Regions from separate parts of the Homo sapiens genome. Here region 1 is linked to region 2. The links come from fine-mapping of genetic effects on gene expression. Tissue or cell type: tibial artery. Region 2 holds a variant in brackets; the other region holds the start of a gene. All regions are shown on one strand. Distances are between the middles of the regions.

Region 1 (4,000 bases), 46 kb before region 2:
ATTTCTTTCCACATTTAAACAGTGGAAGAAGGGGCACTTCCAAATTTAATCTTTCATAGACAGCATATACAGCATTTAACATCTTCTGGATGTTAAAGAAAAAAATATTCTGAAACTTGTTAAAATGGCAAGGAAGAATTTATTCAGGACCAAAGGGGAGATTATGCTGCACTCTGAATACAATAATGACAAGTGGGATTTATAGCCAACAAGCAGAGTGAGGGGTCACTGCATGGAAAATTACTAAAAGGAGATTCTTGTTAAACCAACTTAACAGGACTCTTGTTGAAGGCAGGCCAGGGTTATTAGATATTAAGGATGGGGGATTTTCTTTAAATTGACTTAGCAGAATTCTTTTCTTACTGAGTTTATTCTTTTTTTTTTTTTTTTTTTTTTTTTTTGAGACAGGGTCTCGCTCTGTCTCCCAGACTGGAGTGCAGTGGTGTGATCATGGCTTATGGCAGCCTCCACCTCCCAGGCTCAAGTGATCCTACCACCTCAGCCTCCTGAGTAGCTGGGACTACAGGGGCCCACCGCCACACCCGGCTAATTTTTTTATTTTTTGTGGAGACAGGGTCTCCCTATCTTGTCCAGGATGATCTGAAATTTCTGGGCTCAAGAGATCTCCCACCTCGGCCACCCAAAATGTTGGGATTACAGGCGTGAGCTACTGTGCCTGGCCATGAGTTTATTCTCTTTTTTCTTTTTGAGACGGAGTTCAAGGCCAGCCTGGCCAACATGGTGAAACCCCGTCTCTACTAAAAATACAAAAAAATGAGCCGGGCATGGTGGCGGGTGCCTGTAATCCCAGCTACTGGGGAGGCTGAGGCACGAGAATAGCTTGAACTCAGGAGGCAGAGGTTGCACTGAGCCGAGATCGCCCCGCTGCACACCAGCCTGGGCAACAGAGTGAGACCTTGTCTCAAAAAAAATAAAGACTCTTCGTGAAGTAGTGTTAAGTGGACCCAGGAGAAAAATGAAGATGACCTCTTAATGGCCCTTCAAATGTATAAAGCTTTCTCATTCAGGGAAGAAAGACATAAAGATGTAGCCCAGGCGCGATGACTCAGGTCTGTAATCCCAACACTTTGGGAGGCCGAGGCAGCTGGACCTCTTGAGCCCAGGAGTTCAAGACCAGCCTAGGCAACATGGCAAAACCCCATCTCTACTAAAAATACAAAAATTAGCCTGGCGTGGTGGCGGGCGCCGTATGGGCACCGTGGTTGTCCCAGCTACTCAGGAGGCTGAAGTGGGAGGATCACCTGAGCCCGGGAGGTCGGGGCTGCAGTAAGCCGTGTTCGCACCATGGCACTCTAGCCTGGACGACAGAAAAAGAAAAAAGAAATAAAGGTATAAAAGAAAAAAAAGAAAAGTAAACAGCTTCTTCCAGGGGATGAAGTAGGTTTATTTCGGTGAGATTGCTGCTCAGGACTTAGGAGAGCCATCAAAGGCAGAAGACCGCTCCTGGGGCCCGGTCACCTGAACACTACAAGTCCCAGCAAGCGCCGCGCGGGGGCGGGGCTTGCTGACCGTTGTGACGTGTGGGCGGGGCAGGCGGGACGGGCTCTCCCTTGGGTGCTTAGCCCCGCCCCCGTCCCACTCTGCCCTGTTGCTGTCGCGCCGCTGCTGGTTGCTGTCCCTGGTGAGTGCCTCAAGTGGAAAGGGGCAGTTAGGCCCTCGGGGTGCCCACATTCAGACTTGCAGTCCTGAGAAGGGGCCACGGGGGTAGAGGTGTGGCAAGTTTCGGTTCTCACCGCAGTTCACCCTCTGGGGTGATAGTGGGAGTGGTGTTCTGAAGGCCCTGGAGCCCCTCCCGCGGCCCGGGAGGGTTGCGGGGCAGTTTTGTCTTGCGGAGGGCAGCGCTGCAGTGCTGTGTGGCAGGGTGGGAGGCTCCTCGGGAAGAAGTGACACCCCTGGCGGCGGCGAGGGTCTTGAGGCGGCGGCTGCCGCCCCACGGGTCGTGGCGTCCCGTCCCCTCCCGCGGGCCCAGGCTGTGGTGGTTCCGTAATCCCTCGCCTGGATGTCATCGCCGTTGGCTTCGAGGCGGAGGTGGAGCCTTGTTGCGTCACCCTGAGCAAGTTACTTTCTTTTTGGGCCTCAGTGTCCCCCTTTACGAGTAGGTTTGATCCCTGAAGCGCCTTGCCTTTTGCATGCTGCAGCTGTCGGAGAAGACGTTCTAGGCAGGAGGAAAGACGGTGTCGTGACCTGCCTCTACAGTTAATCCATTGCCCCTCCACCACTGACCCAGCTTAGTTTGGGAGCTAATGTTCCCACTCGTATATTATTTCAACCCCACTGGACGTGTTAACTCTTTTCTATCACTTGGATTCTTGCTTCACATGCAAGCCAACAAGTGACCATGGTTGGAGCTGAGTAAAATATGGATAATATAACTTATTCTATTATTGGAAACACCATTGCAAGTAAAGGACTTTATGTGGTAGGTCTTTGTAGCTTGTGGAGAATACATGATTAAGGAATATCCAGATGGCTCAGTTTCCCAGGTATTTTCAAGGGACCTGGAAACTCTATCCTTTGGCAGACATGACAGCTGTGGAATGGAAAGGGCCTTGAAAAAGGTAGTCGATAATCCTGAGTTACCTGGCACTAACAGGTCATATTGTCTTTCGAGTCAGATAGTACATCTGTGGCTCTTTAAAAATTTAATTTGGCTGACTAGGCGCGGTGGCTCACGCCTGTAATCTCAGCACTTTGGGAGGCCCAGGCGGGCAGAATCACCTGAGGTCAGGAGTTCAAGACCAGCTTGGCAAACATAGCAAAACGCTGTCTTTACTAAAAATACAAAAATTAGTGGAGCGTGGTGGCGGGCGCCTGTAATCCCAGCTACTTGGGAGGCTGAGGCAGGAGAATCGCTTGGACCCAGACAGCGGAGGGTGCGGTGAGCCGAGATGGCGCCACTGCACTCCAGCCTGGGCAACAGAGTGAGACTCCGTCTCAAAAAACAAACAAACAAAAATTTAATTTGGCAGTATGTATTGATAGAATGTCATGTATCCTTAATTATTTTTAGATGAAAAGAGAGTTAAATGAACTCTTTCACTTCTTTTTTCCTTCACTTAGGATCATCATTATATCAGGCAAGGTCCTTGAAGATTTTCTAGCCTTAGCCATGCATTTTGCTGATGAGGAAACAGGCCAGAAAAGGGTACTGTGACTTGGCCAAGCTCTCAGAGTGGCAGAACTAAGATAGGAACCCAGCTCCCTTGGCTGTTAGCCTAGTCCCCTTTCCACCACACTTCAAACACTGTCACTGCCCATGTCACAGGGACATGGCATGTTAGAATCACCCCTGTCAAGGGAAAAGTGGATGGTCTCAGTAAAATGGAGATTAGTACACAGCTTTGAGCCTTTCAGAGTTTCCAGTTGCCCGCACCTGATGTCCCAGAACTATTTTTTCCATCTTCCCCTAGAACTGGCGCCAGCACTATGGTGGTGTGGATGTGAGATGAGGGCCTGTTTAGAAAAAGCTGGACAGCAAATTCAAACAATTGTTAATGAGTAGTAATAAAGGCCTCCTGGGGTGTAAAATTTTTGTAAGACACTCTGAAACATTTTCATATTTTAGGTAAGGGTCTAGAATTAACTTGGAAATTTTGGGCTAGAGCAAATGGCTCGATAATTTGAAGACCAGTGATTGTGTCTTTGCTTTTGCTACCTGTTTCAGGGCCATCTACACACACCCATAGTATCCACTGCTGGTATTCTTTAAGGCTGGTTATGTGTAAGCATTTCTGCCATAGCCAGGGAGAAACGGGATTCAAATCAATTCATCCATTTTTGCTAATTGCTAATCGTTTAGAAAGAAAAGTAAGCAGAAGGCCGGGCACAGTGGCTCACGCCTGTAATCCCAGCACTTTGGGAGGCCAAGGTGGGTGGATCACGAGGTCAGGAGTTAGAGACCAACTTGGCCAACATAGTGAAACCCCGTCTCTACTAAAAATACAAAAATTAACCGGACATGGTGGCACATGCATGTAGT
Region 2 (4,000 bases):
GATCACAAGGTCAGGAGATCGAGGCCATCCTGGCTAACATGGTGAAACCCCATCTCTACTAAAAATACAAAAATTAGCTGGGCATGGTGGCGGGCGCCTGTAGTCCCAGCTACTCCGGAGGCTGAGGCAGGAGAATGGCGTGAACTCGGGAGGCGGAGCTTGCAGTAAGCCGAGATCGCGCCACTGCACTCCAGCCTGGGCAACAGAGCCAGACTCCGTCTCACAAAAAAAAAGTAGGCATTGAGTGCTTATATGGTAAGCACTGTGTTAAGCACTTCATATTTGATGATTTTAACCCCCACAACAAAACATTAATCGTTAATATGTGATAATTAACAAAGTTATGAATAAATCCATTTCACAGATGGGTCACGGAGAGAGGTTGAGTAAATCACGCATGGTCATACAGGGTTGGGATTTTTTTATTTTTTTGAGACAGAGTCCTGCTTTGTTGCCCAGGCTGGAGTGCAGTGGCATGATCTCAGCTCACTGCAGCCTCTACTTTGTGGGCTAAAGCAATCTTCCCACCTCAGCCTCCTGAGTGGCTGAGACTATAGGTGTGCACCACCATGGCCAGTGAATTTTTGTGTTTTTTGGTTGTTGTTTTTTTTTGAGACAGAGTCAGGGTTTCACCTTGTTGGCCAGGCTGGTCTCACCCACCTCGGCCTCCCAAAATGCTGGGATTATAGACATGAGCCACCGCGCTCTGCCAGAATTTTTGTATTTTTTGTAGAGACGGGGTTTCACCATGTTGCCCAGGCTGGTCTCAAACTCCTGGGCTCAAGCGATCTGCCAGCCTCAGCCTCCCAAAGTGCTGGGATTACAGGTGTGAGCCACCATGCCCTGCCTACAGAGTTGGGATTTTAATTCAGGCAGTCCAACTTCAGAGCTCTTGCACTTAATTACAGATGCTCTGTGTCTCTTTCCAGTTCTCCTTTCTCCAAATGGGATCATTCTACCTCTGTAAACCTGTCCTTATGACTTCCCTTTGAGTCAGGAAACCTAGTGCTGATGCCAAAGACCCTGAATAGATTTCTATTAGGGACGAGAGCCATGGAACGTTCCCTTTCCATCACTTAATTCAATCTCTGATGAAGTCCACACCAGTCATTCCCCCTGCACAGCCATCTTGCTCATATCCTTCTCAACAAAGTGGCTCCTAACCCTATCTGGAGGACTAGATAGCCATTCTGGCAGAACAGTGGCCCTAGTCACAAGGGAAAAAGGAACCCCTGTTTGCAAAGCAGCTGTATTTGCTAAGTAAGACACTTTGACAGGCTGAGCATGGCCTGTAATCCCAGCACTTTGGGAGGCCAAGGCGGGCAGATCACTTGAGGTCAGGAGTTCGAGGCCAGCCTGGCCAACATGGTGAAACCCCAGCTCTATTAAAAATACAATAATTCGCTGGGTGTGGTGGCAAGTGCTTGTAATCTCAGCTACTCAGGAAGCTGAGACAGGAGAATTGCTTGAACCTGGGAGGCTGAGGTTGCAGTGAGCCAAGATCACACCACTGCACTCCAGCCTGTGCAACAAAGTGAGACGCCATTTCTTAAAAAAAAAAAAAAAGGACACTGACAAAATGCCTTTTAAGGAAATGATATTTGGGGAGATATGCTGTCAGTAGTTTCGATAGGAACTCAGCATTGAGTTCCTACTGAGGAAACAGCAGAGAACATCTGTGAACATCTGTGGTTGGGTTCT[C/T]CTTCATGTTTCACCTCTTTCACATACCTCACATACCCCTGCATCCATCCTGCCCATCCTCTATTCCATTTGTCCTGTCATTTTTGACCCCGAGTTTTGACAACCCCAAACCTTGTCCCTCCATAAAGTAGACAGGCTAGTAGGTCATCATGGTGAAGAGCCCAGACTCTGGAACTAGACTGTCTGGTGGCAACTTTAGACAAGTCACTCAACCGCTCTTGGCTTTGGTTTCCCCATTTGTAAAATGGCATTGACAATTATAGTCTCTGCTACAGCTAGATGAGTTAAAATGGGTAGAGCATTTAGAGCAGCGCCTGACACACGCTGATTGTAAGCACTCAATACGTGTTCTTCCCTGCCACCTGATTAACAGCTTTGTGAAATTGGGCAGGTCACTCTGAAAGAGGGTATGATTATGATGTAGTGATTAAGAGCACTAGGTTTGACATCAGATGCCCTTGAATCTTGACTTTTTTTTTTTTCTGGAGACAGGCTCTCATTCTGTCACCTAGGCTGGAGTACAGTGGTGCAATCTCGGCTCACTGCAGCCTCAATCTCCCAGGCTTAAGTGATCCTCCCACCTTCAGCCTCCTGAGTAGCCAGGACTACAGGCATGCGTACACGACACTTGGTTCTGTTCTTGTCTCCTGTCCATTCCACCCCCGAGCCAGCAGTCCCAGGAGACAGCCTCTTCCTATTCAGTATCTCCCCCATGTAGGAGCTTAAGTAAATGAAATACCACCACCCCTCTCCCATCTTACCTTGAGATTAGGAAAGACTGTGGTTGAGGGCAGCCTGTGTTACTGAATGTTATCTTCGTGGGCTTGGCTCCAGAGCCCTCAGCAGGAAGAGGGACTGGACCTGCAGCCTCAGACTCAGCACTGGGACTTATAATGAACAGAGTCCTGAGCCCTCTGGTGGGGAGTATTGGGTTCCATTCTGCTTGCTCCTTGCAGGGCCTTTCCAAGAAGTCAAGGGCCCTTGACACTTTAAGGAGTGCCCACATCATGTCAAAAATATTAAAATGCACTGACATCCCACAGAATTTTTTTTTTCTTTTTGAGATGGAGTTTCGCTCTTGTCGCCCAGGCTGGAGTGCCACCACGCCTGGCTAATTTTTGTATTTTTATTAGAGATGGGGTTTCCCCATGTTGGTCAGTCTGGTCTCAAACTCCTGACCTCTGGTGATCCGCTCACCTCAGCCTCCCAAAGTGCTGGGATTACAGGCGTGAGCCACCATGCCCTGCCTGAAATGTGGTTTATACATAAACTATATATACAAACTGAGTTGAGTTGCAGTTGGTTGAGATTTTGTTTTGTAGCCATTTATTTCAATATTTATCCAATGCCATTTTGCAACTGTCTTTTTTATTTTGAAAACAATAACTTTTTTCCAGGTTTCAATAATAAGCCCTAGCTCCTAAGCCATTGTGTCTAAGGGATGGGCCAGCAGTCCCTCCAGTGCTTAGGCTGACTTGGTTGGATTCCCTGGTCCCAGAGCTTGTCAACTCCAGAGCCCATGTGAACCATGCCCACCCTATCTATCTATTCATCCACCCATCCATCCATCCGTTCGTTCATTCGTCCATCTGTCCATCCTTCCATCCATCTATCCACCCACCCATATCTATCTGAGCTGTCTATGGTAGAAAAAAAGCAACTTGGGCGGAGGCTAGAGAAGACAAGCATGGTGTGAGACTGCCCTCTAGAGATTGCTACAGGAAAGTGCAGGTGGGGAGCTCCCTCTTTCAGGATAAGATCAACCCCACCACTCGTTCACTCATTCACATTTATTGAGCGAGTACCTACCTATACCCGGCACCGTGTACTTACCTGTTCTGGGAACAAAAGACAAATACAAAGAGAAACACCACACGTCCCTGTTCTCCAGGAGGTCACCATGTTGTAGCAGTGACTGCAAACACATAAACAAATGATTACTGTTCTGTGCAATGACTACTGGAGTAGATGTGCACCAAGTTCTATGGGAGCACTGAAGGCAAGGAAATAAGTCTGGGGCAATAGGGGAGGTCATCACAGGGAAGGTGGCATTCAAGATGGGCCTTGAAGGATGTGTAGAAGTTTGCCATGTAGTGCTGGGGAGGAAAGGCATTCGGGGCAGAAGGAATGGCAGTGTAGAAATGCAGGCTTGTTGAGGGCCAGCAAGAGGTGTGGCAAAGCTGGAGCATGCATAGTACCGAACAGTCAAGACCCAGCTAGAGAGGCAGGTGGGACCAGATAGTGAAACTCCCACTCAAAAAACAGGAAGTGAGCCAGGTGTGGTGGTGCTCACCTGTAC

The links. PIP is the estimated chance that this variant, and not a neighbour inherited with it, causes the effect.
Region 1: CALCOCO2 starts here. The variant in region 2 is fine-mapped to the expression of CALCOCO2 in tibial artery (GTEx, PIP 0.92).

What each region holds. Positions count from the first base shown.
Region 1 is chr17:48,829,437-48,833,436 of GRCh38, forward strand. It overlaps CALCOCO2 (calcium binding and coiled-coil domain 2), which reads left to right and starts at 1,599. Exons shown (of 13, transcript NM_005831.5): 1 at 1,599-1,642. RefSeq lists an enhancer at 1,603-2,484 and a silencer at 1,855-2,014.
Region 2 is chr17:48,875,730-48,879,729 of GRCh38, forward strand. It overlaps LOC105371814 (a long non-coding RNA gene), which reads right to left. Exons shown (of 4, transcript NR_135674.1): 3 at 3,535-3,616. Among named protein-coding and RNA genes, the nearest start is that of ATP5MC1, 15 kb to the right of the region's middle. RefSeq lists an enhancer at 3,363-3,462. The variant C/T (reference allele first, on the strand shown) is at 1,702.